2 separate regions of the Homo sapiens genome follow, and region 2 is linked to region 1. Evidence: fine-mapped expression QTL. A gene starts in region 1. The other region holds a variant in brackets. All regions are shown on one strand. Distances are between the middles of the regions. Region 1 holds the start of POU2F2 (POU class 2 homeobox 2). Region 2 overlaps POU2F2 (POU class 2 homeobox 2).

Evidence for each region.
Region 2: its variant is fine-mapped to the expression of POU2F2 in testis (GTEx, PIP 0.91).

The regions. Positions count from the first base shown.
Region 1 is chr19:42,125,861-42,140,794 of GRCh38, forward strand. POU2F2 (POU class 2 homeobox 2) reads right to left here and starts at 6,586. Exons shown (of 15, transcript NM_001394376.1): 1 at 6,524-6,586. The coding sequence starts at 6,551. It overlaps LNROP (long non-coding regulator of POU2F2), which reads left to right and starts at 6,769. Exons shown (of 3, transcript NR_038332.1): 1 at 6,769-6,901; 2 at 7,045-7,168; 3 at 10,812-11,239. MIR4323 (microRNA 4323) reads right to left here and starts at 7,653; the gene lies at 7,585-7,653. RefSeq lists enhancers at 4,028-4,137, 7,808-7,857, 13,877-14,378 and silencers at 7,268-7,527, 14,277-14,571.
Region 2 is chr19:42,080,145-42,095,078 of GRCh38, forward strand. It overlaps POU2F2 (POU class 2 homeobox 2), which reads right to left. Exons shown (of 15, transcript NM_001394376.1): 12 at 13,685-13,751; 13 at 11,925-12,126; 14 at 11,723-11,796; 15 at 5,966-11,447. The coding sequence ends at 11,113. It overlaps ZNF574 (zinc finger protein 574), which reads left to right. Exons shown (of 2, transcript NM_022752.6): 2 at 1-1,408. The coding sequence ends at 1,153. Among named protein-coding and RNA genes, the nearest start is that of ZNF574, 11 kb to the left of the region's middle. The variant G/A (reference allele first, on the strand shown) is at 7,188.

The DNA.
Region 1 (14,934 bases):
GGGGTCTGCTTGACAGCAGGCTGTGCAGGTTCTACACTCCCACCTAGCTGGGCATCCCTCTCCCGTCCACAGAACAGGGCAGCCTCGGACCCCACTGCCAGCCCAGAAAGTCCACACTCATCCTTAACCTCTGCTATGGGCTAAGTTGCATCTACCAAAATTCATACACGGAAGTCCTAATTCCTGATACCTCAAAATGTAATTGTATTTGGAGATAGGGTCTTTAAAGACGTAATTAAGGTAAAATAAGGTCATTAGGGTGGACCTTACTACAATCTGACTGGCATCCTTATAAGAAGAGGGGGCGGGCGCGGTGGCTCATGCCTGTAATCCCAGCACTTTGGGAGGCCGAGGTGGGCAGATCACCAGTTCAGGAGTTTGAGGCCAGCCTAACCAACAATGTGAAATCCTACCCCTACTAAAAATACAAAAATTAGCCGGGCATGGTAGTGTGTGCCTGTAATCCCAGCTACTCAGGAGGCTGAGGTAGGAGAATCACCTGAACCCAGGAGGCAGAGGTTGCAGGCAGCCGAGATCGTGCCACTGCACTACAGCCTGAGTGACAGAGCAAGACTCCATCTCAAAAAAAAAAAAAAAGAAGAAAAAGAGGGAATTAGGTCACAGATGGGAACAGAGGGAAGACCATATGAAGACCCAGGAGAAGACCAGTGGACCACAAGCCAAGGAGAGAGGCCTTGGAAGAGACCAACCCTGCTGACATCCTCGTCTTTAACTTACAGCCTCCGTAATTGTGAAAATGAATTTCTCTTATTTCAGCCACCTAGTCTGTGGTACTTTGATGTGGAAGCCCTAGCAAACTAAGCCTCTCACAGCCCCTGCCCTCCTGCTGTCCCATCCCTGAGCCCCCAGTTGTGGCTGTCTGTGTCCAGGTTCCTTCCCCACAAGACCAATGCGACAGGCCTGGTCTGACTCATCACTGGGTCCCCAGCATCACAAGCCCAGAACGGGTTGTAACTGCTGAATGTCCCTCTCTTTAGCAGTCTCTGTTTCCTACTACTTCTCACCCTTGTCTTACTGTCTCCCTGCTATTTATTTTATTTAATTTATATTTTGAGACAAGAGTCTTGCTCTGTCGGCCAGGCTGGAATGCAGTGGCACAATCACGGCTCACTGCAGCCTCGACCTCCTGGGGTCAAGCTATCCTCCCATCCCAGCCTCCTGAGTAGCTGGGACTACAGGTGTGCACCACCACATCCAGGGACTACAGCTGTGCACCACCACATCCAGCTAATTAAAAAAAAAATTTTTTTTTTTTGTAGAGACGGGTCTCCTTATGTTGTCCAGGCTGGTCTCAGACTCGTGGGCTCAAATGATCCTCATGCCTTGGCCTCCCAAAGTTCTGGGATTACAGCCATGAGCCACCATGCCTGCACTTTGCCATTTAAAACATTTCCTGAGGCCTTGGCATGGGCTGTTCCCTCTGTCTGGAACACTGTTCCCCAATCTGTCCACCTGGCGACCCCCGGACTCATCCTTCAGAACCCAGCATAAGCTCTGTTTTCTTTTCTTTTTTTTTGAGATGGAGTCTTGCTGTGTTGTCCAGGCTGGAGTGCAGTGGTGGGATCTCGGCTCACTGCAAGCTCCAGAGGTCTCCTGGGTTGAAGCAATTCCCTGCCTCAGGCTCCCAAATAGCTGGGATTACATGTGCGCGCCACTACGACTGGCTAATTTTTGTATATTTAGTAGAGAAGGGGTTTCACTGTGTTAGCCAGGATGGTCTCAATCTCCTGACCTCATGATCTGCCCACCTCAGCCTCCCAAAATGCTGGGATTACAGGCGTGAGCCACCACGCCCGGCCATAAGCTCTGTTTTCTATGAAACCACCACCTTGATGCCCCCAGCTCCCAGCCAGGTCTCTCTCCAGCTCCCCATACCCTAGCACCTTCCCTTGTCACTGTCTTAGAGGCTGACTGTAGCTAGCCGGGCCCCACTATGTCTCCCCTATCAGACTAGGAATTTTTCAAGGGCAGATCTGATCTCAGGTTCCTAAACACTCCCCAGCAGAAGACATGTGGATCAGTGGCCCCAAGGTCCTGATCTCCCTCCCCCAGGCCTTTGCCTCTGCTCGTCTCCCACTTGGGTGACCCTTTCCTTCTCTACTGGCAAACTCTTGCTCCTCTTTAAGGTCCAGCTCAAATGTCACCTCCTCTGTGAAGTACTCTCTGATTCCCCAGATGGTCAGTGTCTCTCTCTTCTGGGCTTCACTGACCCTGTACTGTGCTCCACCACATCCTGATCATCCTGGGCAGAGACCTCCACCCCAACTGTGGGCTCCTCAGGAGCCCAGGCTGGAGTCATTGCTGCACAGGCCTAGGAGTACGTCTTTGGAATGAATGAATGCATTAAAGAATCCCCTAACTGACCAGGGCCCAATCCTGTCTAAAACAAACCCCTATCTCTACTGTCACCCAACATCCCCAAGAAACCCTAACTTAAATCTTTAAGGTATGATTTCCTCTGCAGAGACTGTGGCTGGAAAGACAAGAGTGGTTTGAGGGAAATTTTTCACCATTCTGTTACCCTTATTCTCCCTAAATTATCCCAACCACTCCTACATATCCCTGCATACTCCCTGCCCCACACTTGGCTGGGTCACAACAAAATGGCCAACTGCTGCCCTTTGTCTTTTCTCTTTCCACCTCCCCTGTCAGAGCTCAATCTGAGAGAAGGGTCAGATCATTTCCACCAGGAATGAACAGGGAGCTCCATTTCCACCGTGGACTAAAAGCCAAATGACGCCTTAACAGGGACTCCAGGGCACTAGCAATCATAGACTTGGAGGGTCCATCAAATGGCTCGGCCTCAGCCTCAGCCTGAGCCCAGGCAGAGATGCCCATCGCCTATCACTCAACTCTAGAAAAATATTGATGCCTGTTCCCACCCTAGACTCTGATTTCAGTGGTACAGGGTGTGACTTGGGCATCCAGATATTTAAAAGCCCCTCCAGGTGATTCTCTTTTTTTTTTTTTAGACAGAGTCTCACTCTGTCGCCCAGGCTGGAGTGCAATGGTATGATCTCAGCTCACTGCAACCTTTGCCTCCTGGGTTCAAGCGATTCTCCTGCCTCAGCCTCCCGAGTAGCTGCAATTACAGGCATGCATCACCATGCCCGGCTAATTTTTGTATTTTTATTAGAGACGGGGTTTCACCATGTTGGGCAGGCTGGTCTCGAACTCCTGACCTCAAGTGATCCGCCCACCTCAGCATTCCAAAGTGCTGGGATTACAGGCATGAGCCACCGCACCCAGCCCCCTCCTGGTGATTCTAATGTGCTCCATCCCCTGGCACCTTCAGAAGCCCCTCTCAAAGCCTCATTCACACACAAAAGATTGGTTGGTTATGTATGGCTATTCCCACCCCTCATCATAGGTAATGTGTAATATTTTAGGGGAACTGAAAGAGAAAAAGCAATGCATAGCCCTACCAGGCCCCTTGGAGCCATGTTGCCCCTTGAATCCCACCTTCCTCAGGTCAGACACCCCTCAACCAGGGCTGCCCAGCCCTGAGCTCACACTCACTTGCCCGACTGCCCCAGGCCTGGGACTCTTGGTCCTCTCCACCCTCCCACTCCTCCCTCCCCGGACTTTCACTTCTCCTCTGCATTTCCCCCCGCCAGTTTTAGCAGACTTAGGCCAGCTTCTCGTTAGCACTTACCGAAAACGGGGCTAAATATAGAGGGCCCAAGGACTGCCCCTCACCCCTCCTGGCCCCACTTGTCCTGTCCCCTGGGTCCCCTGCCTCCGCAGCCTGCTTCAATTAGGGGTATGGCCTGGGAGCCCCTGTGGGCAGGTTGGTGCTGCCGGGAACCTCTGTGGGCCCAGCTGGCCGAGCCCCCGTCCTCCCCAGAAGCAGCACCTCACCCCTCCCCACCCCACAGCTGTCCCTGGGTGGCCTCAAGGGAGTGAACATTTCTGAGTTGTCAGGAGGGAGGGATGGAGATACAGGCAGCAGACACAACAAGAGAGGTGGCCCCACAGCTGCGCTGACAGCAGGCAAGAGCTGCCAACAGTACACACCCCATGGCCACAGCCAGGCAAGGCCCCGGCCAACACAATACAAGAAACAGATGTGCACAGATTCCAGACAGGAATGTGAACAGGTTTGCAGATACGACACATGCCCAGACATGATGCCACGGGCATATATGCAAAACACACACCCAAACGTGCGTACACACATGCACTCACACACACTCTCACACTGAGTGACACACAGCCAGCCAGACACACGTAAAAAGTATACAAACTCACACACCCGGAGTCGAACACAGACATACACCCTCCCCCTACATACTACACCCAGTCACTCACAGACTCAGACATGTGTACGCACACATGTACTTACACATGTTCTCACACCAAGTCACATCAGTCCAGCCAGAGATACACACCCAGACATGCACATGCTCACACAGAGTCACACACACAAACACAAGTGCACACACATACACCCAGAGTCACCTTATCCTGGAAGATGGCCAGGGCTGACCTCTGAACCCAGTTCACAGGTGTGGAGTCTGAGACCAGGCAGGGTGAGTGATCTGCCCACAGCCACACAGTGTATTAATTCATGTCCAGGCAGGGAAAATTCACCCCAGTCTTCCCACACTGGGCTGTTCTGTGAGAAATCCCAAGTAAAGGGTTTAGCCTACTGCCCAGCACCTCTGAGGTCCCCATTTAACCCCAGAGAGGAACGAGTCAGTGGGAGCAGACACCCTGGATCTCTGTGTCTACACTGTATGGACACACACACATATACACAGTTGCATACACAGTCACCTCAACAAATAAACATGTCACCCTGCAAATAGTCTTCCTTTCATCCCACCCCTCTCCTCACCGCCTTTGCTTGCTCATACCCACTCATTCTTCATATCCCTGCTCAGACACCCCCTTCCTCCAGGAAGCCCTCCTTGACACTCTACCAACTAAATCACATGTTTTCAGGGCTCCTACGATCCCCTAATACCTCCCCGTCCTGGCCCAACCCCTCTACCTATGTCCCCCTATCCCAGCCCTGACCCCTCTGCCTGGGCCTCCCCCATCCCAGCCCCAACCCCTCTACCTATGTCCCCCCATCCCAGCCCTGACCCCTCTGCCTGAGCCTCCCCAACCCCAGCCCTGACCCCTCTGCTTGGGGCCTCCCTCATCCCAGCCCCAACCCCTCTACCTTTGTCCCCCCATCCCACCCCGACACCTCTGCCTGTGCCCACCACCCCAGCCCTGACCCTTCTGCCTGGGCCTCCCCCATCCCAGCCCTGACCCCTCTGCCTGGGCCTCCCCCATCCCAGCCCTGATCCCTCTGCCTGGACCTCCCCCATCCCAGCCCTGACCTGTCTGTACTGTCATTGGTGACAGGTCTGTCTTCTCCAATAAACTGGGAGCTCCAGGAGGACAGACCTGAGCTACCCTTTCCACTGTACTTCCAACACCCAACACAGAACTACTCAATAGATACATGTTGGTGGAGGACACACGGGTGCCCGCACACAATGGCGCATATAGGACAGCACACACCACCAAACCAAGACTCATGCCCATGGTCATGCCTACACAGCCACAAATGAAACAGGCATGAAGGGCTGAGTGCTTGCCATGTTCCAGGCACTGTGCTAAGCATGCTACATGTATTACCTCATTTAAGACTCCCATCAACACTGCTGAGTGATAGCCATCACCATACAGACATATACACATTCTACTAAATGAGCCAACAGCTATAAATCACCTTGTACAGTGCCTGGTGCACAATGTTCACTCAGCCAACTGACATTTGGTGGAGAAGGCATTTAATAAGCACACAAACAAACACATAATGAAATTCCCAGCAGTGATACGTGCCGTGAAGAAAAGATAAAGCAGGGTGAGGGGACTGAGAGTGACAGGATCAGTGCCAGTTTAGATGGGGAGGTCAGGGAAGGCTGCCCTGAGGAGGTGACATCTGAGGTGAATGAAGTGAAGAAGGGAGCCAGGCAATCATCACCCCACAATGCCACACACAACAGCCCCCTACACTCACAAGCACACAGCAGTCCCACTCAGAGCACTCAGAACTACTGCACACACACATGCACACGCACACCTGTACCAGATGTGCACACACACACTCAAAAGGGAATGACATCCCCCAAGTCCAGCAACTTGGCATTCCAATCCCTTTGCAGCCCTTATCCAAGGATTGCCCATGTCACCCACCCCACTGGTTCTCCACATGAGGGCCCGCTACCAACACCCAGCTCCCTCCCTCCCGTCCCCAGACCCTTCGGAACAGGGCAACAGAGAAGAGAAGATGTTGGAAGTTCCGGTGCCTGATGTGGAAAGAGAGGGCAAAGAGGAGCTGTGGGGGTTAGCGGGGACCCGGCATGGGAGAGAGGGAGTTGCTAGAGTACAGAGGAGAAGGACAATGGAGACAGCTGAGGAGGAGGGGCAGGCAGGGCCCGCAGAGCAAACCTAAATGTGCTGCCTGTCCTCTGAGCAGTGGCACAGGCACCAGCCCCCTTACCTGGAGCCCCCATGCTGGAGTGAACCATGCTGCCCGCCCCGCCAGGGCTGGGGGAACAACTGTGTCATCTCCCCACCCTCTCTGGGGGCCGAGCCCTCCCTGCCGGAAGTCACTCAGGGAGGAAACCACAGGGCCGGTCCGCCCCCTTCAGAAGGGAAAATACCCTGGCCCACAGACCCGCCCCGGCAGCCCGGCCCACCCCAAATCATGTGTGTGTGCTGGGGGGTGGGGGCTAGTGGGGCAGAGGATAAGCAGGCTGGAAGAGCCGACTCCTACGGCTGCGATCCAAGAGGTGCCTGCAACAGTTGCCCCCCGACTTCTGTCGCCCCCATGGAGGCAAACAAGTCTGGAACAGGGAATGGGGGTCTGGGAGAGAAGGTGGGTCCACAGCAGTAACAACAATAAAACACTAGCCAGCAGCTTATTGGAGAGAGGGCTTTGCCGATGCCTGACCCTGTGCCTCACTCTTGACAGGTGCCATCTCCAATGTGGTGGTCACTCTTATTTGCCCCATTTTACAGATGAAAAGACTGAGGATCAGAGAGGTGAGCAGTAGCTTTCCCAAAGGCCCAGAGCCAAGAAGCGTTGAAGCTTAAAAGCACGCCGCGGCAGGGAAGATCAAGCAAGCCCTGCGCCTATCTGCAGGTGAGCTGTTGGGTGCCACCATTGGGAGGAAGTGGTGCCCGTGGGCAGTGGTAGTGGGGACGGTGGGTCGGGGACTTGGCCTGGGGCTACAATAAGTCGCCGGCCAAATGCGGGCGCCCGAGGCGGCTCCAGTGGAGGGGAGCACCAGGTCCCCGGGCTGCCGGCTGGCTCTTCGCGCTGCGGCGCTCCCATTTCAGCGCTTCCCTCCGTGCCCGCCAGAGGGCGGCAGCGCCCAGCCAATGGGCCGGAGGGCGGGGCCGGCTGCGGAGAAGGGAGCCCCTCCCTCCGCTCCCCTCCCCAACACCCTCCCAACACCTCCGCTCGCACACCTGCGAGGGTCACACAAAGGCGCAGGACTCCCGGCGCACCGCAGCTCAGACAAAGGCGCGCCCGAGTCCGCTGCCCTCTTCCTCTTGGTGCCCGAGGTCTGAGGCTGTGGGGCTGCCTGGCGTCTCCAGACACCCCACATGCCCGCCTGGGCCCCGCAGGACATCCTGCGCCCCGTGGCTGGGGGGCCCCCTAAACCACAGGTGCATGCACAGACGCCTGGACTCACCCTCACACACACAAGTATTTCTACAGATGAACCCCAGCACTTCACACACACACACGTGTGCACACACACGTGCATGAACACATCTATGTGCACAGGCCCCAACACCAGCCCTCCCTGCTGACGATGGTCACTCCCATATACTGATACCTCCTCTACTCCCTCACATGGACCCATGGGCACAAGGGCACTTCTACACATATGTGCCCAAGCATACTTCCTGGCCACTCGCACCCACTCACACACAGGCACACTCAGAAAGGGTATACTACAGGCACAACTACAGGAGTGCCCTCCCCTGACTGCACACGTGCCCTGTGCACCCAGACACACCCAGGCAAGCAGGTGGGCACAACAGGAAGGACTGGCAGTTCTCATATATGCACACGAGAGGTGACCGTTTCCCGGCATCTACACTCCACAACATCCCGTATCGTAAAGGCCATTTCACAGAGGAGATCCACAGACCACACAGCAACTGGCCACAGGATTTCTATACATGAGGGTCTTCCCGACAGCAGCCTGGTAGCAGTGGACACTGGAGCCTTGTCTCAAAGCGACATTTACGCAGTAAGCTTTGTTTTCAGTTAGGATTTGTTTTGGGGGGCTTGGAAATGGGGCTATAGGACATTATGGGGGGGGGCAAAACCTCACCAGCCACCCTTATGCTCCACCCTGGACAGACTCAACATCATCCACGTCAGGAACACGCTTTTGGATGTGACCCCATTCCAGCCCCCTAGAGCCAGCAGAGAAGGACCACCCACTTCCAGTGCGGCCAGGTCTGCAGTTCAGTCCTGGAGCCGGGGAAGGCTGTATACGCTCCCTGAGAGATGAAACAACCCCACACCTCTCGCCTCCCATGCTGGCTCCATTCTCAGTGCCTCAGACCAGAGCTGGGCCTGGTGAGGGGATCTTGAAGGAGGATGGGCCTGCCTGAGAGAGGATAGAGGGGCAGAGTTTGGAACACACTGGCAGCTGGAACAGGGAGGCTCAAGGCAGGGGGAGATGGTGGCCTCGTTGCCACAGAAGAGGCCTCGAGCCATGCTGAGGGAGGCAGGTAGGGCATGGGAGCTAGGGAGCAGTGGGGGCCACTTGAGGTGCAGGGAGCTGGGAGGGAGGCGGTACAGGGGAGGCCAGGCTGGGCTCAGGGCTGAGCGGTAATTAAAGGAGACGTAGGGGGCTCCCCAGGGCCAGCGGGGCTGGTAACTGACACGCGGGCCCCATTGCTCCGCTCATATTTCTCGCCGGATCGATACGTTTGACTCCCGACAAGACAATAATCGCTTGTACGCGGCCGGCGAGTCGATCAAATACATTATTAGAGCGAGGTCCCCCGGGGGCCCGGCGGGGAGTGGTGGGGGGGAGCAGCCAGCCCACCGGGGACAGCAGAGCGAGATTCTTCACCCCTCAGGGCCCCCCAGCCATGGCCTCTTCCTCTTGGCCACCCCTGGGGACCCTCTCTGTGGCTCAGTTCCCCAGCCTCTCTCTGAATGTCTGCTGCTTTGGTGATCTCTCTACTCAGCCCCCAGCATCATCCTTGCTCTGTGAGGGAACCCAAGGGTTCTTTCCCCATAGGCACTGCCCTCATCTGTAGGGCTGTGGCATGTGGGAGCTCAGAGAGGCTCCTCAGACCCCTAGCTTGGCAGGAGACAGGGAGACCAAGCCTCAGGCCATACTCTGAGTCCATGGCTGGGCCAGGAGATGAACTTGGGCCCAAGACTCAATGATACCCACCTCCCTCTGCCCAGTCCCCTTGCTGCATCTAAGCACACGGGGCTTCAGCAGCGCCCAGGCCAGGGGCAGCCTCTGGGGGGTTAGGGAAAGCTAACCTAGGGACCCAAACAAGCAGGAAAACAGGATGATAGGGGTGGCAGGAAAACAGGATGATAGGGGTGGCAGACAAACACATACACAAAGAGATGTGTGTCTGCTCCTGCTGCAGGGCCATGTGGTCCCCCAGTGGGCCTCAGAGACCCTCAAACCATGCCCAGCCTCAGCTCTGGCCCACCCGAGACACTGCTTGCCACTCTTGCCCACTTTCCTGGCTTCTAGGCTCAAGCCTATTTCCCCTTTTAAAAAAAATTAAATTAAGCTTTAGCTTTATTTTTAAAGTCCAGGCTCTTTTTTTTTTTTTTTCCTTTGAGACAGAGTCTCACTCTGTCGCTCAGGCTGGAGTGCAATGGCACAATCCCGGCTCACTGCAACCTCCGCCTCCTGGGTTCAAGCGCATCTCACGCCTCCTCAGCCTCCCGAGTAGCCGGGATTACAGGTGCACACCACCAGGCCAGGCTAATTTTTGTGTTTTTAGGAGAGACAGGGTTTCACCACATTGGCCAAACTGGTCTCGAACTCCTGAGATCATGTGATCCACACACCTCAGCCTCCCAAAGTGCTGGGATTACAGACATGACCTCAAGCCTATTTCCTGTTTACACACCTGCTTTGCCCTCTAGACCCGAAGTGCCCCTTTGCTTCTCCAGCAGCCCTAAGTCAAAGTCAAGTTCTGCTTAGGAGTATCCAGCATTCAGGGACTTAAAATATATCTTCCTCTTTGTCTTCATTAGCAGCAGCAGCCCCCACAGCATTGTGGTCTATGCTTTCCTTTTTTTTTTTTTTTTTTGAGACTGTCTGGCTCTGTCACTCAGGCTGGAGTGCAGTGGCATGATCTTGGCTCACTGCAAACTCTGCCTCCCAGGCTCATGCCATCCTCCCACCTCAGCCTCCCAGATAGCTGGGACCACAGGCGTGCACCACCACATCCAGCTAGTTTTGTATTTTTAGTAGAGACATGGGTTTTGCCATGTTGCCCAGGCTGGTCTCAGAACTCCTAGGCTCAAAGCCATCCACCCGCCTCAGCCTCCCAAAGTGCTGAGATTACAGTCGTGAGCCACTGTGCCTGGACTACTCTGTGCTATTTGAACCAATATATTATTTCTAAGTCCTCATGACAGTCTGAGGAGGTAAAGGTCTGCTATCATCCTCATTTTACTAACAAATTGAGCCTCAGAAAGGTGAAGTCTCCTGCCCCAAGTCACACAGCATGAGTGGTGGAGTCAGGATTTAAGCCCAGGTCTGTCCCCCTGACAGCTTGATCTCTCTGTACTGAGCCATGGAGCTCCTTCTTGGAGGCGTGAAATGCTCCCCATCCTTCAGGAGACAACAGCAACAGCCAGCCACTCCTTGTCCAGTCAGCAATGCTGGAATACCTCTGCAGCTCACAGTCCAACGCCCACAGCCTTCGAGTCAGTTTCTTGATATTCGGCAATGCACTGGACTCCTGATCCCATCAGCTCCTGGCTGAAGGTGGGCCAACCCTTCCCCATTTCCTTCAATTCAAACATTTCCTCATGTCCCTCAGTGCCAAGCCCTGTGCTGGGAGCTGAGGACCCAGAGGTGAGCTAGATCTAAAATCTGACCTCAAGGAGCTAACAGTCTGAGAGGAAGACTGGAGTGGATAAAAATACCTTGGTAATTTATCACTTAATAAATATCCAATAAATGCTATTATGTGCCAAGCCATTGCTAAGCTCAGAGAATACAGTGGTTAAAAGCAACCCATAGAGCTTATAGTCTTTGGGGGAGAAATAATTTTTAAAAGTTATCAACTAGCAGGGCATGGTGGCATACCCCTGTAGTCCTGGCTCCTCTGGAGGGTAAAGCAGGAGGATCACTTGAGCCCAGGAGTTCAAGGCTGCAATGAGCTATGATGGCACCACTGCTCTCCAGCCTGAGTGACAGAGCAAGACTCAATCTCTAAAATAAATAAATAAATAAATAAAATAAAAAATAAAAAGCCATCAAATAAATATGTAATTCTAAGTTAGGAAAAGTGATTTCAAGAATAGGTAGAGGAGGGGCTGGGCATGGTGGCTCACACCTGTAATCCTGGCGCTTTGAGAGGCTGAGGTGGGAGAGTTGCTTGACACCAGGAGTTTGAGACCTGTCTGGACAACATATCGAGACCCCATCTCTACAAAAAAAATTGTTTTAACTTAGCTGGGTGTGGTGGTGTGCGTCTGTAGTCCCAGCTACTCGAGAGGCTGAGGCGGGAAGATTGCTTGAGGTCGAGGCTGCAGTGAGCTACGATCATGCCACTGCACTCCAGCCTGGGTGACAGAGAGAGACCCTGACTCTTAAAAAAAGTAGAAGGAGGATACCTGATGTAAACAAAGGATGGCATGTTGCAGAAAACTGTCCCAAGGAAGTGACATTTACATAGCAATTAGACACAGTATTCTCGAGGCAAAGAATGTGAAGGAAGACACTCCAGGCAATGGGAACAGAGGAGGCGATGGCCCCATGGAAACAAACAGTGTGGCAATTCCAGGATCAGAAAGGAGGCCTATAGAGCTGGAGCAGAGTGAACAAAGAAGAGAAGATAGGAGACGAGGTGTGAGGTGGAGAGGCGGCCAGGGCCAGATCGCACAGGGCCTTGCAGGCCAAGGTAAGAATTTGGGACTTCAAGAACAGTGGGACACCTGAGAAGGTTTCAAGCAGGGGAGTGGCATGGTTCTATGAACACTTTTGTGACAATCCTGGCTGCTTTGGAGGCCGCAGTGAAGAACCAGAGGATGGAGTGTGGGGGTCAGCGTGAGGAAGCTGATGAATTCCACATCACCATCAGGTGATGATGACAGGAAGCAATAATTGGTGATTGGCTGAATGTGGGGCATGGGAGTCACGGAGAAGTCAAGAATGAGGTCCAGGTATGTTAAAGTATCTTTCCTGGCACAGAAGATTGGGGCAGGTGGAAGAGCTTAAGCTCAGGTAAGAAAGATCAGGGTAGGACCTGAGGTCCTGAAGGATGAAAGGAAGGGCAGGAGGTGGGAAACAGCATTCAAGGGGGTTGCCAAGGTTGAAGACCCCAAGGTGGAGACAAACTTGGCTTTCCCAAGTTTGTCCTCAAGTTCCTTTGAGGTTGGATTTGAAGTTGCAGGTGGAAGGCTTCTGCGCAGAAGCATTCTGTGTAAGGAAGTTCTACTGGGGACAAATGTGGGGACCGGCTGGTAGCATGGAATCTGGAGACAGGATGACCAATGGGGAGGCTGGGACAGTGGTCCAAGGCGGCAGGGGAGAAAGGAGCCATGAGGATTAGGATGAGGATACATATTCAAGCTGGAGTCTACAGGAACAGGATATGAGAAGTGGGTGCTGGGCTGGGGTGGCTGGGTGGATGCGAGGCCATCACTGAAAGACACAGTGAGAAGGGAAGCAGGGGGAAGACACTTGGGTCAGTTCCAGGGGGAAAGTCAGGAAGCAGCATCTTCCAAGAAGCAAGGTCTGTGGACCAGAAGTCAGCAGATGCTTAACAAATTCACATGGATACAAACATTCCTCATCATATCTCCCCACCACAGCCAATTTTCCACATCCACCAGAATTCCCAGTTCGCCTCATGTAAGAAAAGAAGCACTGTGATGTGGCTCAAAGAAGATAAAAGAAGACTAACTGGCCGGGTGTGGTGGCTCACACCTGTAATCCCAGCACTTTGCAAGGTCGACGAGGGCGGATCACCTGAGGTCAGGAGTTCAAGACCAGCCTGGCCAACATACAATAAAACCCCATCTCTACTGAAAAATACAAAAATTAGCTGGGCATGGTGGCGCACGCCTGTAGTCCCAGCTACTTGAGAAACTGAGGCAGGAAAATCGCTTGAACCCAGGAGGCGGAGGTTGCAGTGAGCTGAGATCACACCACTCTACTTCAGCCTGGGTGACAGAGCGAGACTGTCTCTGAAAAACAAACCAACAAATAAAAGAAGACCAACCAGTCCCTGTTCTGAAATTCGCCCTCTAGTGACCTAGGGCCAGCCCCCTGAACTCCCTGGACCTCAGTTTCCCCAGATATATGTCTGAGATGGGCTGGAGAAGCACTCTAAGACTTCTTCCAGCTTGAACATTCTTTTATTTTATTTTACTTTATTTGGCTCACTGCAACCTCCACCTCCTGGGTTCAAGTGATTCTCTTGCCTCAGTCTCCTGAGTAGCTGGGGCTACAACCATGCGCCACCATGCCCAGCTAATTTTTGTATTTTTAGTAGAAATAGGGTTTCACCATGTTGGCCAGGCTGATCTCAAACTCCTGCCCTCAAGTGATCCACCCACCTCAGCCTCCCAAAGTGCTGGAATTACAGGCATGAGCCACTGTGGCCCGGCCCCAGCTCTAACATTCTGTAGCTTGAAAGAAACAAGAACGGGTGAGATGGACTGACGGCTCAACTGGCCATTGACAAATAGGGAGGTAAAGCATGGCCAACCTACTCTAAAGAGGCCCTGGCTGGGTATACTCGGCAACCCACTTACTCCTCACTGTCATCTTATGAGGGAGAGACCATTATCATCCTCACTTTAAAGATGAGGAAGCTGAGGCCCACAGTCACACAATGAGGCTGGAGTGAACCCAGAGGCTTGTTGACCCCAAAGCTTGTGCTTCAGCTGTTTTGTTGAGCTCACTGCTCCTCAACCTGGCTTGTGTGAGTCTCATTCAGACTGCAGATCCCCCAGGAACAGGGTCCCTTGGCATCCACTGCCATGTGCTCACCAGGGTCTCTGAATGACCTGTGGGAGCAGGCGCCTGGCCCTGGGTCTTCCTCAATGAGGCTCTGCCCTTGGCCCAGGAGTCCCTAGCCCCCTTGCTGCTGCCCCCAGGCTTTCCACAGCCCACATGCGCACTTCCTGTTCTCTAGCTCCCACTGGGCGCAGCACCAACTCTGCAGGCTCAGAGGCCGCCGCTGTCATCCCAGCGCAGGGAGCTGTCCAAAGGCTGAAAAGCAAGAGCCCATGGCCTTGGTCCAGAGCCCTCCAGTCCTGCTGCCCCCAGGACAAACCCAGTCCCCTTACTGTGGCCTCCAGGGCCCTACAGGACCTCCCCGCTGGCCACAGGAGTACCACACCTCAGCCACACTGGAGGAAGCTAATTTTGTCCCCAACATGGGGCCTTCAACCTTGCCAGCCCCCTTGAATGCTGTTCCCCACCTCCTCCCCTTCCTCTCATCCTTCAAGACTCCACTCAAAGGCCACTCCTCAGAGAAACCCTCCCTAGTCATGCTCCACTCCATTCCCAGTTTTATTTCCTTCAGAGCACTCTGAAATTCAATTGCCGCCTATTTGCTTTACTGTCTCTTTCACCCTCTAAAATGTAAGCTTTCTGAAGACAGGTGTCCTTTTCTGTCTTGTTCACTGTGGTATTCTTGGTGCTTTAACAGTGCCTG
Region 2 (14,934 bases), 46 kb before region 1:
CCTGCGCACACACACAGGGGAGCGGCCCTTCCCCTGCCCTGACTGCTCCAAGCCCTTCAACTCACCTGCCAACCTGGCCCGCCACCGGCTCACACACACAGGAGAGCGGCCCTACCGGTGTGGGGACTGTGGCAAGGCTTTCACGCAAAGCTCCACACTGAGGCAGCACCGCTTGGTGCATGCCCAGCACTTCCCCTACCGCTGCCAGGAATGTGGGGTGCGTTTTCACCGTCCTTACCGCCTGCTCATGCACCGCTACCATCACACAGGTGAATACCCCTACAAGTGTCGCGAGTGCCCCCGCTCCTTCTTGCTGCGTCGGCTGCTGGAGGTGCACCAGCTCGTGGTCCATGCCGGGCGCCAGCCCCACCGCTGCCCATCCTGTGGGGCTGCCTTCCCCTCCTCACTGCGGCTCCGGGAGCACCGCTGTGCAGCCGCTGCTGCCCAGGCCCCACGGCGCTTTGAGTGTGGCACCTGTGGCAAGAAAGTGGGCTCAGCTGCTCGACTGCAGGCACACGAGGCGGCCCATGCAGCTGCTGGGCCTGGAGAGGTCCTGGCTAAGGAGCCCCCTGCCCCTCGAGCCCCACGGGCCACTCGTGCACCAGTTGCCTCTCCAGCAGCCCTTGGAAGCACTGCTACAGCATCCCCTGCGGCCCCTGCCCGCCGCCGGGGTCTAGAGTGCAGCGAGTGCAAGAAGCTGTTCAGCACAGAGACGTCACTGCAGGTGCACCGGCGCATCCACACAGGTGAGCGGCCATACCCATGTCCAGACTGTGGCAAAGCGTTCCGTCAGAGTACCCACCTGAAAGACCACCGGCGCCTGCACACAGGTGAGCGGCCCTTTGCCTGTGAAGTGTGTGGCAAGGCCTTTGCCATCTCCATGCGCCTGGCAGAACATCGCCGCATCCACACAGGCGAACGACCCTACTCCTGCCCTGACTGTGGCAAGAGCTACCGCTCCTTCTCCAACCTCTGGAAGCACCGCAAGACCCATCAGCAGCAGCATCAGGCAGCTGTGCGGCAGCAGCTGGCAGAGGCGGAGGCTGCCGTTGGCCTGGCCGTCATGGAGACTGCTGTGGAGGCGCTACCCCTGGTGGAAGCCATTGAGATCTACCCTCTGGCCGAGGCTGAGGGGGTCCAGATCAGTGGCTGACTCTGCCCGACTTCCTCTTTGGCACCTCCATTCCCTGTTGCTGAAGGCCCTCCAGCATCCCCTTAAGCATCTGTACATACTGTGTCCCTTCCTCTTCCCATCCCCACCACCTTGTAAGTTCTAAATTGGATTTATTCTCTCGTGAGGGGGGTGCTCTGGGGTCCTTGACACACATAAAGGTGCCCCCCCACCTTCCACCTCTTAGCACTGGTGACCCCAAAAATGAAACCATCAATAAAGACTGAGTTGCCAGCAGTGTGTAGAGTGGAATTTGGGAGTCATGGGTCTTACCTCTCGTGGCTGCATCACCAACACCCAGAAGTGGGCCTGGCAGGTATTAGGGGTAGTAGGAGCTCAGTAAACATTTGCTGGGCTGAAGAGAATGACCTGGTGTTCATGGGCATGGCTCTCATAGCAGGGCCTTCACTTCACTGCTAGATGGAGGTAGCATGGCTCTCTTGCCACTAGAGGTCCCATGGCTCTGTGGAAAAGCTCAAGAGTGTTTGTACTGGTGGCAGGAACTTTCAGAGAAATCAGATTTTTACACTCCTGTCCCTGACTCCTGGCCTGATGTGGACCTTGTCTCCCAAGGCCATCTGATTTTCTCATTGATCCCCAAGAGCAAATGCAGGTAGGCATGATCTCTAGAGCTGTGGAATTAAAGGAGATTCTGAATAATATGTGTCTGGATGTAGGAAGATTCATGAGAGGTGGTGACTTGAATTCCCCTGGAGTTGGACTTTGGCTCAGCCAACAGATTTTTATTGTGAGTGATGGATTGTTGGGATGGCTGGCTAATGTTTGAACATCTAGTCAGTCTCAAGTACTATATAACTGAATAATATTCACACTGATTACGTGAGAACATTTTGCAGGGAAGGAATCTCCAGTCAAAAGCATTGAGATGACTTGCCCAAGGTCACATTCAATCCAGGCAGGGCAGAGCTTGAATTTAAGCCTGATTTCATTTCATTTGGTTTAATCACCGATATGCTTTTCTCTCTACTCTGTTGCCTTCTGCATACTTTGGGGAGGGTGGTAGAGACAAGATGGGAGTATGTGACTGGTGGGATGCTAGGCTGCTGTGCTAGCCTTGCTTCTGAGACCCCCCCCCCCAAAGATTATTCCAGATCTTTCTGTTGAACTCTTTTTCCTTTTTATTTTTGAGTTGGAGTCTTTGCCGCCCAGGCTGGAGTGCAGTGGTGTGATCTCGGCTCACTGCAGCCTCCACCTCCCAGGTTCAAGCGTTTCTCCTGCCTCAGCCTCCCGAGTAGCTGGGATTATAGGCGCGTGCCACCACACCCGGCTACGTTTTTGTATTTTCAGTAGAGACGGGGTTTCACCATGTTGGCCAGGCTGGTCTCAAACTCCTGACCTCAGGTGATCTGCCCACCTCAGCCTCCCAAAGTGCTGGAATTATAGGCATGAGCCACTGTGCCCGGCCTGAAAGAACTCCTTTTTTAAGACAGGGTCTCACTGTATCACCCAGGCTGGAGTGCAATGGCACGATCTCGGCTCACTGCAACCTCCGCCTCCTGGGTTCAAGCAATTCTGCCTCACCCTCCCAGGTAGCTGGGATTAGAGCTGCGCACCACCATGCCAGGCTAGTTTTTTGTATTTTTAGTAGAGACAGGGTTTCACCATGTTGGTCGGGCTGGTCTTGAACTCCTGACCTCAGGTGATCTACCTGCCTCAGCCTCCCAAAGTGCTGGGATTACAGGCATGAGCCACCGCGTCTGGCCTAAAACAAATTCTAATAATTGTTCTTGTAAAATAAATGACATAACATTTGAAAAGTTAATGTATTAGGGTTCTGTTTATACAAAAAAAAAATCAGGTTATGTGCGTGTGTGTGTATGTGTGTATCCTACCTGTTATATGTATATAAATTACACAATAGATACAGTAAATAATATATATGTATATAAAGATTTTTTTATAGTTTGTTTTACTCTATAGACATACAAACATACATTTTAATGTTTATATACATATATATAGTTCCAAATCCTAGGATTTGGAGTATTCTTTTTAATTAAGTTCTAGGGCACATGTGCAGAACATGCAGGTTTGTTACATAGGTATACACATGCCATGGTAGTTTGCTGTACCCATCAACCTGTCATCTGCATTAGGTATTTCTCCTAATGCTATCCCTCCCTAGCCCCTCACCCTCTGACAGGTCCTGGTGTGTGATGCTCCCCTCCCTGTGTCCACATGTTCTCATTGTTCGGCTTCCACTTAAGAGTGAGAACATGTGGTGTTTGGTTTTCTGTTCCTGTGTTAGGTTTTATTTTTATCTTTTTATTAAAAATGGGGTCTTGCTGTGTTGGCCAGGCTGGTCTCAAACTCCTGGCCTCTAGGGATCATCCCATTTTGGCCTCCCAAAGTGCTGGGATGAGAGGCATGAGGCACCACACCTGGCCTGTTTTTTTCTATTTTTCAGAGTCTCGCTCTGTCACCCAGGCTGGAATGCAGTTGCACAATCACAGCTCACTGCAGCCTCAACCTCCTAGGCTCAAGTGATCCTGTGATCCTCCTGCCTCAGCCTCCCAAGTAGCTGGAACGACAGGCGAGCACCACCACGTCTGGCTACTTTATTTTGTAGAGATGGCGTCTTGGGTTCTGTTTGGTTCTGACTGTGCCACCTTGAAGATGGGCCTGAACCAAATGATCTTCCTCCATGTACTATTTTTATGTCCCATCCCTGTTGATTTGTTTTGAGAGTTGAGGGGCTTTGCTTTCTTTGTCTTGCCAAAACACTGCAATGCTGACACTTTTTGTCTTACTAAATATGAAACCTGTCTTTCACTCTATTCCTTTTTCCTGTGCCTCAGTTCCCCCAACCCTCACTATCGACTTTGCAGGATCCCAGCACCTGTGTGCCAAGCATACATTAGAGGATGGAACAGTGCTGAGGAAACGCAACAGCTTTTTTTTTTCCTGAGATGGAGTCTTGCTCTGTCACCCAGGCTGGAGTGCAGTGGCACAATCTTGGCTCACTGCAACCTCCACCTCCCAGGTTCAAGTGATTCTTCTGCCGCAGCCTCCCAAGTAGCTGGGACTACAGGCGTACACCACCACGCCCAGCTAATTTTTGTATTTTTAGTACAGACGGTTTCACCATACTGGCCAGGCTGGTCTCGAAGTCCTGACCATTATAATGATCCACCTGCCTTGGCCTCCCAAAGTGCTGGGATTCCAGGCGTGAGCCACCATACCTGGCCCAATTTTGTTCAATTTTTGTAGAGATGGGGTCTCACTGTGTTGCCCAGGCTGGTGTCGAGCTCCTGGGCTCAAGGGTTCTTCCTGCCTTGGCCTCCTAAATTCTAGGGTTACAGGCATGAGCCACCACACATAGCCTGTTTTTTTTGTTTGTTTGTTTTTGAGACGGAGTCTCGCTCTGTCGCCCAGGCTGGAGTGCAGTGGCACATTCTCAGCTCACTGCAAGCTCTGACTCTGGGTTCATGCCATTCTCCTGCCTCAGCCTCCTGAGTAGCTGGGACCACAGGCGCCTGCCACCATGCCCAGCTAATTTTTTGTATTTTTGGTAGAGACGGGGTTTCACCGTGTTAGCCAGGATGGTCTTGATCTCCTGACCTCGTAATCCACCCGCCTCGGCCTCCCAAAGTGCTGGGATTACAGGCCTGAGCCACTGCACCCGGACTTTTTTTTTTTTTTTTTTGAGATGGAGTCTCGCTCTGTCGCCTGGTCTGGAGTGCAGTGACACGACCTCAGCTCACTACAGCTTCCACCTCCCGGATTCAAGCTATTCTCCAGCCTCAGCCTCCCGAGTAGCTGGGTTACAGGCGTGCGCCACCACGTCCGGCTAATTTTTGTATTTTTAGTAGAGACGGGGTTTCGTCATGTTGGCCAGGTTGATCTTGAACTCCTGACCTCAGGTGATCCGCCCGCCTCGGCCTCCCAAAGTGTTGGGATTACAGGCATGAGCCACCGCTCCCGGCATTTTTGTTTGTTTTTGGGTGTTTTTTTTTTTTTTTTTTGCATTTTTTTGGTGATGTGAAAAAATGACATATAACTCTTCTGTTAATTTATTTGACTATTTGTGAGGTTGAAACTTTTTAATGTGTTAATTGAAACTCTGGTTTTAAAGAGTCTCTTTAGTCCTCTGGGGAAGCATCCAGGGATGGAAATGGAGAGGTATTTGCTGGTTTCCTGGCTTTCTCATAGTTCTCATATATTGAAGACAGTGTGCTGGAGCTCAGTCCTAAGCACTTTACTTAGACCATCATCCTACAACCTTGTGAGGTAGGTATTGTCCCTTATTTACAGATGAGGACACAGAAGCTCACATATTGAAGGTCATATATTTATAAAATGGCAGAACTGAGATTTGAATTCAGAAGTATGAATTCATCCTAAATTCAAAGACTTGGTTCTTTGGCAAGAACATTTGTGCAGGTTTTACTTCCAAACATTCACTATTTTTTAAAATTTAATTTTTTTTGTTTTTGTTTTTTTTGTTTTTTAGACAAGGTCTCTCTCTGTTACCCAGACTGGAGTGCAGTGGCACGATTACGGTTCACTGCGGCCTTGACATCCCGGGCTCAAGCAATCCTTCCACCTCAGTCTCCCAAGTAGCTAGGACTAGACAACAGGCACATGCCACCATGCCGAGTTGAGTTTTTGGGGCTTTTTTAGAGAAGAGTTCTATGTTGCCCAGACTGTGAACATTCACTATTGGAACAGAAGTAAAACCCTCCCCTCCCCAGCATACAGATCTCCAACCCCACACCCTGATTTCTTCACCACTCTTCCCAGGACAGAGAGGAGACCAAGGGAGAGTAGGCATCATTTCTCTCTGTACAGTTTTTAATTTTTTATTTTTTGATGTTTGTTGTTCAGATGAATGACACACTCAAGTTACAAAAATGGGGCCTTAAAAGAAGCACATTGTACAATGAACAAGCAGATTGGAGTTAAGAACACTGAAACACTAACCCGCTACCACGAGAAGAGACGGAGGGGGTACAGGAAGGGAAGGAAGGGGCTACCAACACAGGGGTCAGACGGAACTGAAAGGGAGGCTAACTTGGTAAGGATGGAGGAAAGGCAGGTCTACTCCAGGGCTGATTTCTGGATGCCGGTTCCTGGGCACCCTTGCCTTGTACTTGCCACCCCCTCCAACTTCACCCACCCCCATTCCAACCTGGTCATTCTGGGTGGTGAAAGACACCCACACCAGAATGGGCTGCGCCAATCAGGTCTTTACCAAGTAGGGTGGTCACCTTGCCCTAGTGCAGCCCTGGATTTGGAAGGTGATGGTGGAAGCAGTGGGACAAGAGGCCAGAAAGGAGTTGAAAGTTCAGGCCCCTGCTCTTCCCAAAGACTCCTCGCCCATTCCCCACCCTGCCATTATCCAAAGGCTCTCTACGAGTTGCCGAGAGAGGCCCCCAGTCACCCTGCAATTATATAAATAAATAAATACTGAGCCCCTGGGTTTGGGGGACATATTGGGGGAGGGGCAGCAAGGATAGAGGACAGGAAAGAGAGGAAGGGGAGGGAGGCAGAAGGGAGGGGTCACAGACATAGTAAATAGTTGTCTCCATCCCAGCAACACTTCTCTCTGGATTTTTCTCTCCTTTTGTTTGTTTAACAAGGAGCTAACAATTCAAGGACAAATACTTAAAAATATACATTATTTTTTCTTTGTTTCCGCCTTTGTCATCGTCGTCTTGCTTTGGAGACTGCTGAGGTCAAAGTTTAAACCGCATGAAGGACTTGCGGCTTGGAGTTTTTGTGTATTTTTTTTTATTTTTATTTTTAATTTTTTTTCACTTTTTTTCCAACATATAAAAAGGTAGCGGAGTTGTCTGTGGGTTTTTTTTTTTTTTTAAATGGTTAAATCTTTGGTTTGTTTCTTTTTTCTCTTGGAGGCCTTTATCTCTCGCACTTGCCTTTCCCACTCAGAGACCAGTGGGGGCCCGCGTGTCTCAATCTTGCTGTCTGTCTCACTCTCTCTCTCACTCAGGTCCCCCTACCCTGGGCTAGAGGAAGAGAGAGGCACCCTGGT[G/A]TTCATGTGGGTTAGAAAAACTAGTCAGGTCAAGAGGTCACCCTGACTTGGCTAGTCCCTCGCCAGATCTCCCCAGGGCTTGGAGAGCCCGTCATGGCCTTCTCCAGGGAGATGGATGGAAAACTCATATCCTTCCCCTCCTCCTGATCTCAGCCCCAACTCCTACTGGGGCTTGGGTTCCCCATCCCTACCCACCCCCACACACACACCCACCCCACCCCCCAGAAGAGAACAGAGAGAGGTGGTTTAGTTACTGGCATCAATTTTTTTTTTTTTTTTTTTGGCACAATGAAAAGGCCCACCATTAGGGTAGACCCAGTCTCTGTCCCTCCCTTAAGTAGGAGGTCAGGGTTGGGGAGAAGAGAAATTCAGAGGGCTCCCCACTGCTCCAACCCACTCATCTCTCCTCTCTTTCTAGCCCAGGCCCTTGGCCCCCAACCTCGGACATCTAACCTAGCCCATAGCCTAGCCTGGGGTTGCCCTCCCCATCCCCCACATAAAGCTCCCCAGCCCTCCAACTCTCTCGCTCATACACAGACACACGGACACAGGCTCTGTACAGACCACAAAATAAAAACGATGAGATAGTTTTGTTTCCCGGAGTCGAGACGGGGGACCAGAGTGTAAGGGGCAGATGGGGGTGGGGGGCATGAATTCCCCCATCACCTTCCCAACCCTGGCTCCCTCCAGCCCCCCAGCCCCTTGCCCTGGCTGGCCCCCAGCCAACGATATTTGGTTTCCTTTTTTTAACATTAAAGTTCTATGAGGTATTTGGTGCCTTATCTCGAGTCCTCAGGGGAGGGGGGCCCAGGGGGAGACCTGGGGCTCACCTGCCCCTCCCTCCCTCCTACCCCCTTCCCAATATTTGGTTTCACAGCTGTAGTTAAAGCTTGGGATTTGGTTATTTTTCCCCCTCCCAGGAATTTTTTTTTCTTGTTTTTCTTTTCCTAGGTGTGAGGGTTGGATGGGGAGGGTCCCCAGCACCCCCGGCTGCACAGGGGTCCCTCCACCAACATCAGGGCATCTGCCCCATCCCTGCCCCCTGCTCCTCCTCTCCTCTTTACCCCACTCCCACATACTGGGGTGGGGAGAGGTCCCAGGTGGTGGGACTTGATGGGGAGGAAGCAGGATGAAGTGGGTGGTGGTGAGTCCTGGATTTTCTTTCCTTTTTTTTTTTTTTTTTTCCTTTTTGGTCTAGAATCATAGTTTTTGTTTGAGTCATCTCCACCATGCCTTCCATGCTGCCTGTCTTCTCGGAGGGGGTTTTTGGTTGTAATTCCTTTCATTTTGCTCTGCTCAAATGTCCTTCCTATTTGGTCAGGAGCCCTTGGCCCCCTCTCCACCCTTGGGCTGGGGCCCAAGCCCTCTTGCCAGTCCCTTCTCTCTTCAGGAAATAAACATGGACAAACTCAGAGGTAGGGTAAGGGCAGGGAGTCGTTCAGCGGAGATGCTTACATTCCGGTGAGGTTGGGTAGACGAGGTGCCAGGCCCCATCGTGCCGGGGTGGGAGGGGCGGCTACTTCACCACTGCCCGGACAAGGCACCCAGAGGCCCCTGCAATGGCCGAGTCTCTGCTGCCTCCGTCGCCCAGCCCAACAGTTTCATTTCCCGGGTGGGAGAAGGGAGACAAGGAAAAAAGAGAACGCTGAGGCCTGGAGCTCCATCTGCCTCTCCTCAGAGTGTCCGGCAGAAAGTGGAAGCTGCCCAGGCCAAAGCCCTGCGGTCTCAGGGCTCTCCTCTCTCTCTGCTCCTGCCCAACAAGGGGCAGGGGCCACACTACGGCTGTCAGGCCCCACCCTGATTTCAATGGCTCGTGTCCTTCACTGCAACACTTTGGTTTGAGGAGAGACACAGAAAGAACAAGATTGAGAGAGAAGAGAGGAGAGCAAAGGGAGAGAGAGGAGACAGGAAGGAGGAGAGGAGAGAGGAAGGAGGGGAGGAGAGAGGAAGGAGGGGAGGAGAGAGGTCAGACAAAAGAGAACCGAAAAAGAAATCAAAGGAGGAATCAAACCACCCAAAAGTTGTTAAGTTTTCCTTCATCTGTTCTTTTTGCTTTCTTACTCCTTTTTTTCCTGTCTTTTTTTAAAGCTTTTTCAGTTGATTTGGGAGGGGAGTTTGGGGCTCTTCACCCCTGTCCCTGATACCCTCTCTCAGCCCCGCCCACCCGCTTCCATCTGCCCTGGCCGAGGGACAGGCCCTGCCCCAGCCGCCCCCTCCGGCTTTCCCAAAGACAACGTCCATGAGGTATTTGTGAAGAGAAAGAAGCATCCGTCCTTCCATCCGCCTTGGGGAACAAGGGCCTGGACCACCGGTGCAGGGGCTTGGCTCCGCCTCGCGGTTCCATCTTATTCTTGAAGAGTCCTCATCTTCTTTCCCTTTTATATATATATATATATATATGTTTATATATATATATAAATTTTTTTTCTAGTTTAAATTTATTGTTTGTTTGTTTCTGTTTTTTTGGTTTTCGGTTCAAAACTTTGTTGGCCTCCACAATAGCAGGAGGGCAGGGTGGCTCCCAGTGGTGTCTCTCCTCTGTCCGTCGTCAGTGGAGACGTGTCCGGGGCTGGTCAAACACAGGGTCCAGCCAAGAGTTGTGGAGGTCTTGTGGGAGTGGTGGCCACCACCGCGCCCTCTCAGATGGGGACCACAGGCTGTGGCACTGTCCCCACCACATGGACCCTGATGGGGATGCCATCTCGAGGAACCCCACCACTGGGGTGTGTGCGTGCGTGCATGTGGGGGGAGGGAGAGGCATTCGCCAGTACCAGAGGGGCACAGGGTGGGAAAAGCGAGGTGAGTTCTCTTTTTGGTTTCTGGTTAATGTCAAAGAACGTGAAGGATCCCACGGATAGGCACTGGAATATGAATTTTTTTTTTTTTCAGGGAAACAGACAGGATGGAAAAAGACAACTGAATGCCCTCAACTGAATGTCTTCATCCCCTCTTGCCTGAAATTTCCACCTTCCCATAGGCTGGGGAGGGAGTCAGTTCCAGAGCAGAGGAGGGTGACAGGGTTGAGGAGGGACTTGTGAGAGCTAGAACTTGGCAAAATGGCCTAGCCCACCCTTCAAAGGGGAAAAGAGGGAGGAACAGGGGATGAAAAGTTGTCCGCAGGCCTTCCCTTGAACTCTCCCCTGCTGGGGGGAGGGAGGAGGTTAAAGCAAGACCCCCTGCCCAGGTGGGGAGAGCTGGGGGCCAGGGGAGAAGGGGACACATGGTAGGGACACATTCTGTTGAGCACAATGCTAAAAATTCTGTACATCCTTTGGATGAAGCTACTGAATATTTGGTGTAAGGTTGTTCAGGCCCTTTCTCTTTCACCTTCTGGAAAAGAACATTTGGTGGGTGGTGCTAAGCCCCAGCCCATCTGCCCAGGCTGTGCCCTGTCTTCGCTGGCCCAGGGCTGGGGGCTGGGATTAGGAAGCTGGCATCTTCTCTTTTTCCTTCTGTAGCCCCCACGGGGGAGGCAGGGTTGGGGGTTGGTCCCACAGCCAGGGCTCGGTGGCATGAGGTCTGACCTGCTGGAGGCTTCTCCGCCCCTGGCTGGGGTTTTTATTTGGCGTCGTAGCAGTGAGGGTGAGCACGCTGAGGTCTGGCTCGCGACTGGTTTTTTGGTTTGTTTGATTTTGTGGGTTTTTTTTTTTTTTGGTTTGTTTTTGGTTTTTTTTTGTTTGTTTTTCACCTCTGGTTCCTTTGGGGCAGCTGGTTTCTGTTGTGATTATTTTTGGTTTTCTCTTTTGTTGGTTAGTTTCTTTCCTTTTTTTTTTTTTTTTTGGTTGGTTGTTTTTTTGGTCTTTCCTCCCTTGTCACTCCTGCTCTGAGGACCCTCTGCGTCCCCACCACTGGCCTCCTCGCCCTCTTCCCAGGCAAGGGACCAAGGCAGGGACCAGAGGAATGGGAGGGGAGGCATGGCTGGCCCTCACTCAGGTTTGGACCCTGCCTCGGGCCCCCCTGGACCTCCAGGGGTCTGTGCTGCCGTCTCGCTGCAAGTGGAGGAGGAGGAGGATGAGGATGAAGAGGATGAGGAGGAGAGGCCAGGAGACTTGCTGGAGATGGAGGCTGCCACAGCCGCAGCCGCTGCTGAGACCAGGCCCACACCAGGCGGGGTGCTGAGCAGGGGCAGCCCAGCATGATTCAAGAAGAGCGGCGAGGTCACCAGGCCAGGGCTCCCCGGGGCTGCACCGGCTGCCCCCAGCACCAGATTCCCGCTGCCATCAAGGCTGGTAAGGGGCAGGGTTCCACCAGAGGCCAGGGCTGGCGGGGAGAGAGAGAGGCTGGGCTAAGGGCATGCCGGGCCAGGGGAGACCTTTGCCTTCCAGCATCCTGCCCAGAGTGCCCCCCATCTCCCCATCGGTCCCACTGACCCCCATCAGCACCCCTCACACCTTCCCCAAAGGTGAGATGGGTATGAAGAGGCAAGCAATGCAGTGAGCAGGGGCAGGATGGCATGGCTGGAGCAGCAATGGCAGGGCTCGAGGCCCCAGAGGATAGGGCTGGTGACGATGGGTGTGACATGAGGCAGCACGCACCTTGGATAGTGGCCAAAGGGTTGTTGCTCATGAGGGCTGGACTCAGCCCGGAGCTCAACCCCACCATTGTGCTTCTGCAAGAGGCAAAGCAGAGGCATTAGCAGGGGCAGGGACCTGCCAACATAACTGGGGTGCCGCTCCCCACCCTAGAAGCAGCAGCGACCCTGCTTCTCCCCACAGCTTCCCACGTGCACCCACTTACCCCGTGCTGGGGTTCAGGCCTGACAAGCCGATAGCCGAGTGGCTGCCTTGAGGGCTGGGGTTTGTGCTGTTGGTGGTGGCCGGGGGTGGGGGAGTGACAGAGGGGATGGAATTGAGGGGGGGCGCAGCCCCGCCCCCGCCCCCACCCCCTCCAGCTGTCCGGCTGGGGTGGAGCGTCCCCACAGCTGAGGATAAGGTAGTAACTGCCAGAGAGAGACAGAAAGATGGGGTCTTCAGCTTCCACTCGTCCCCCACTGAGGAACCTGGGGTCAGCTCCTACTTGTCCTCCCGCCCAGCTCACGCAGCATCTCCTCAGTCAGAACAGCCTTAGACCTCCCTGCCCTCTCTTCCCAGAGTCATTTCCCTGTGCCTCTGCCATGGTGACCCCTGTCATAACAATGGAAGTCAGAGCAGGTGCTTCCTGCTGAGCCCTGGCACTCTACACTCCCTGCCCTGAACCACTTTTTTACCGACTAGAAACGGGGGTGCCCAGGAGACAAAGCCCTATGGCTCCCTCTAGGGGCTGGGGAGGGGCGAAGGGTGCCAGGCACACTGCCACATCTGAGGGATGGGCAACCTGGCAGGGGCTGAGGGCCCAGACTCAGCCAGACTGCTGGGGTAGAAACTCCTGGCTCTGTCTCATCCCAGTGGTGCCCTTGGGTGAGTGCCTTAACCTCTCTGACCTTCAGATCCCTTGTCTGGAAAATGGGGATAATAATAGACCCTATCTCATAAAATGAGTTTGAGAATTAAGTCAGTCAATGCAGTTTAGAAAGAGTTTAGTACAGTGCCAGGCAAGCACTTACTACTTTATAAATCTCCACTTACTATTTTCTAGCCTGGGGAGGGGCAACGTGTTGTTTTATGTGTATATATATTATGTGTATATATATTATGCATATATATATTATGTGTGTGTGTATATATATATATATATATATATTTTTTTTTTTTTTTTTTTTGAGATGGAATCTCACTCTGTCACCAGGCTAGAGTGCAGTGGTGTGATCTCAGTTCACTGCAACCTCCTCCTCCCGGATTCAAGTGATTCTCCTGCCTCAGCCTCCCGAGTAGCTGGGATTACAGACACACGCCACCACGCCCAGCTAATTTTTGTATTTTTAGTAGAGACAGGGCTTACCATGTTGGCCAGGCTGGTCTCGAACTCCTGACCTCAGGTGATCCACATGCCTTGGCCTCCCAAAGAGCAGGGATTATAGGCATAAGCCACCACACCCAGCGAATTTTATATTATTATTATATATATGGTGTATAACCATACATATAAACCTACCGTGTCCCAGGAAGAGGGAGGGGAACTCTGGATACAAGACTATGTATGTATGCATGTATGTGTGTATATGTACATACACATACACTCTTACATACATGTATTTATATCTTTTTATGTTTTACACATTCATAATAATTTAATAAAAACTGAGGCTTAGAAGGATAAAATAAGTGCTTGAATTCACACAGCTTAAAAATGACAGAGGCCAGGCACAAAACTCAAGTGCCTCACCTTTTACCAGGCCCATGCTTTTCTCATATGAAATCGTGAAGCAGATTAAAGCTGAGTTGCTCCTGCAGAGGAGGGGTGAGTCCTACCCTCTTCCCACTGTCTCTCCCATTCCCCCACCCACACTCCCCAGGCCCAGTCTTGAGGCCCATGGACACCCAGAGCCACTTGGGAACCTCAGGCTCCAGCCTGTGCCACATCCTCCCAGTCCCCCCTCACCATTTTCTGCCCTCCCTGACCTGTTGTGCTCAGACTGCTGGAAGCTTGGGACAACGGTAAGGTCCCCGCGCCCCCTTGGGGTGTGACCTGAGGAGAGAAGAAAGGAGGTGTGGTTAGCCACTGTCTGCCAGCAGCCCCCGTGATGCTCCCTGTAGGACCCCACTCCTCCGTCCCAGGATGGGGGCAGGGGGCTTTGGCACAATGCTGCATTTGTATTATTCCACATGCTTTCTTCACACTTGCCCTAGCTGATCCTGAGCCACAAGCAGGAAGGGCTAATTCTCCATTGAGAACACTCCCCACCTCTCTTCTGACACCGCCCCATCTGGCTAGTCTTTGCAGGGTTGTGTCCTGTCTGAAGTGACTGCACCGGAAGAGTGGCTGCTCCACATGCTCCTGATATTGTTGGTTCTGCAAAACTAAAACTCTTTTCCCTGGACAAGCAAACACCACCCTTTTACCAGTGGGGTTGGCAAGCAATGCAGGAGAGACTGTTCAAAGTGACCCAGGCAGGGAAAGAGCAGATCTAAAGTGCGAGGCTAAATGGATGCATATCTTTGCATCGGGGTGTTGAGATGTCATATTACTTGATTTTCTGGGACCATCAGCTTCCTTCTTGGCCACCCCACCTCCAGTCTCACCTTTGCATCAGCCCCAGAAACCTCACTAAATGTGACTCTCTCCTTCCCCAGCTCAAAACCACTCCTTACCTCCTCACTGCCCATGGTTCAAGTTCCAGCTCTTCACTGTAAAACTTGGGGTACATGCCCCCACTCCTTCCCCAACCTCATTCATATAAACTGCAGCACCAACCACACTAAATTGCACTGGAGTTTCTCAAATTGGGCTGGGCACACCCTGGCTTCTAGGCCTTAGTACACACTGGTCCAGGAAGGCTCTTTGCCTTCTTGTGGCTGGCTAACTCTCCCTTGTCCTTTAGAACTCAGTTCAGACAGTGCCTCCTTCACACCGATGGGGGCAGGGGCTCCTCTCTGGAGCATCACAGCTCTTCCCAGAAATGGAAATAAAAGGATGGGATAAAGGATGTCCCAGCTGTGTCTGATATCAAGTGGGCCTGTGTATAGCTGTGGACCTGAGAGTACACCCATGGGTGTGACAATTTCCCCGAACGGCAAATAAGTGCCTCTCCCTGCCTCTGTGTGGTTGTGAGCCTGTGTGTTCTAACCTGGACCACGTCCCTGGACATATATCCCTTCCTGTGTGGCTATGGCACTGTGATAACTCTGTGTCTGGCTATGTCGGTGTGTAT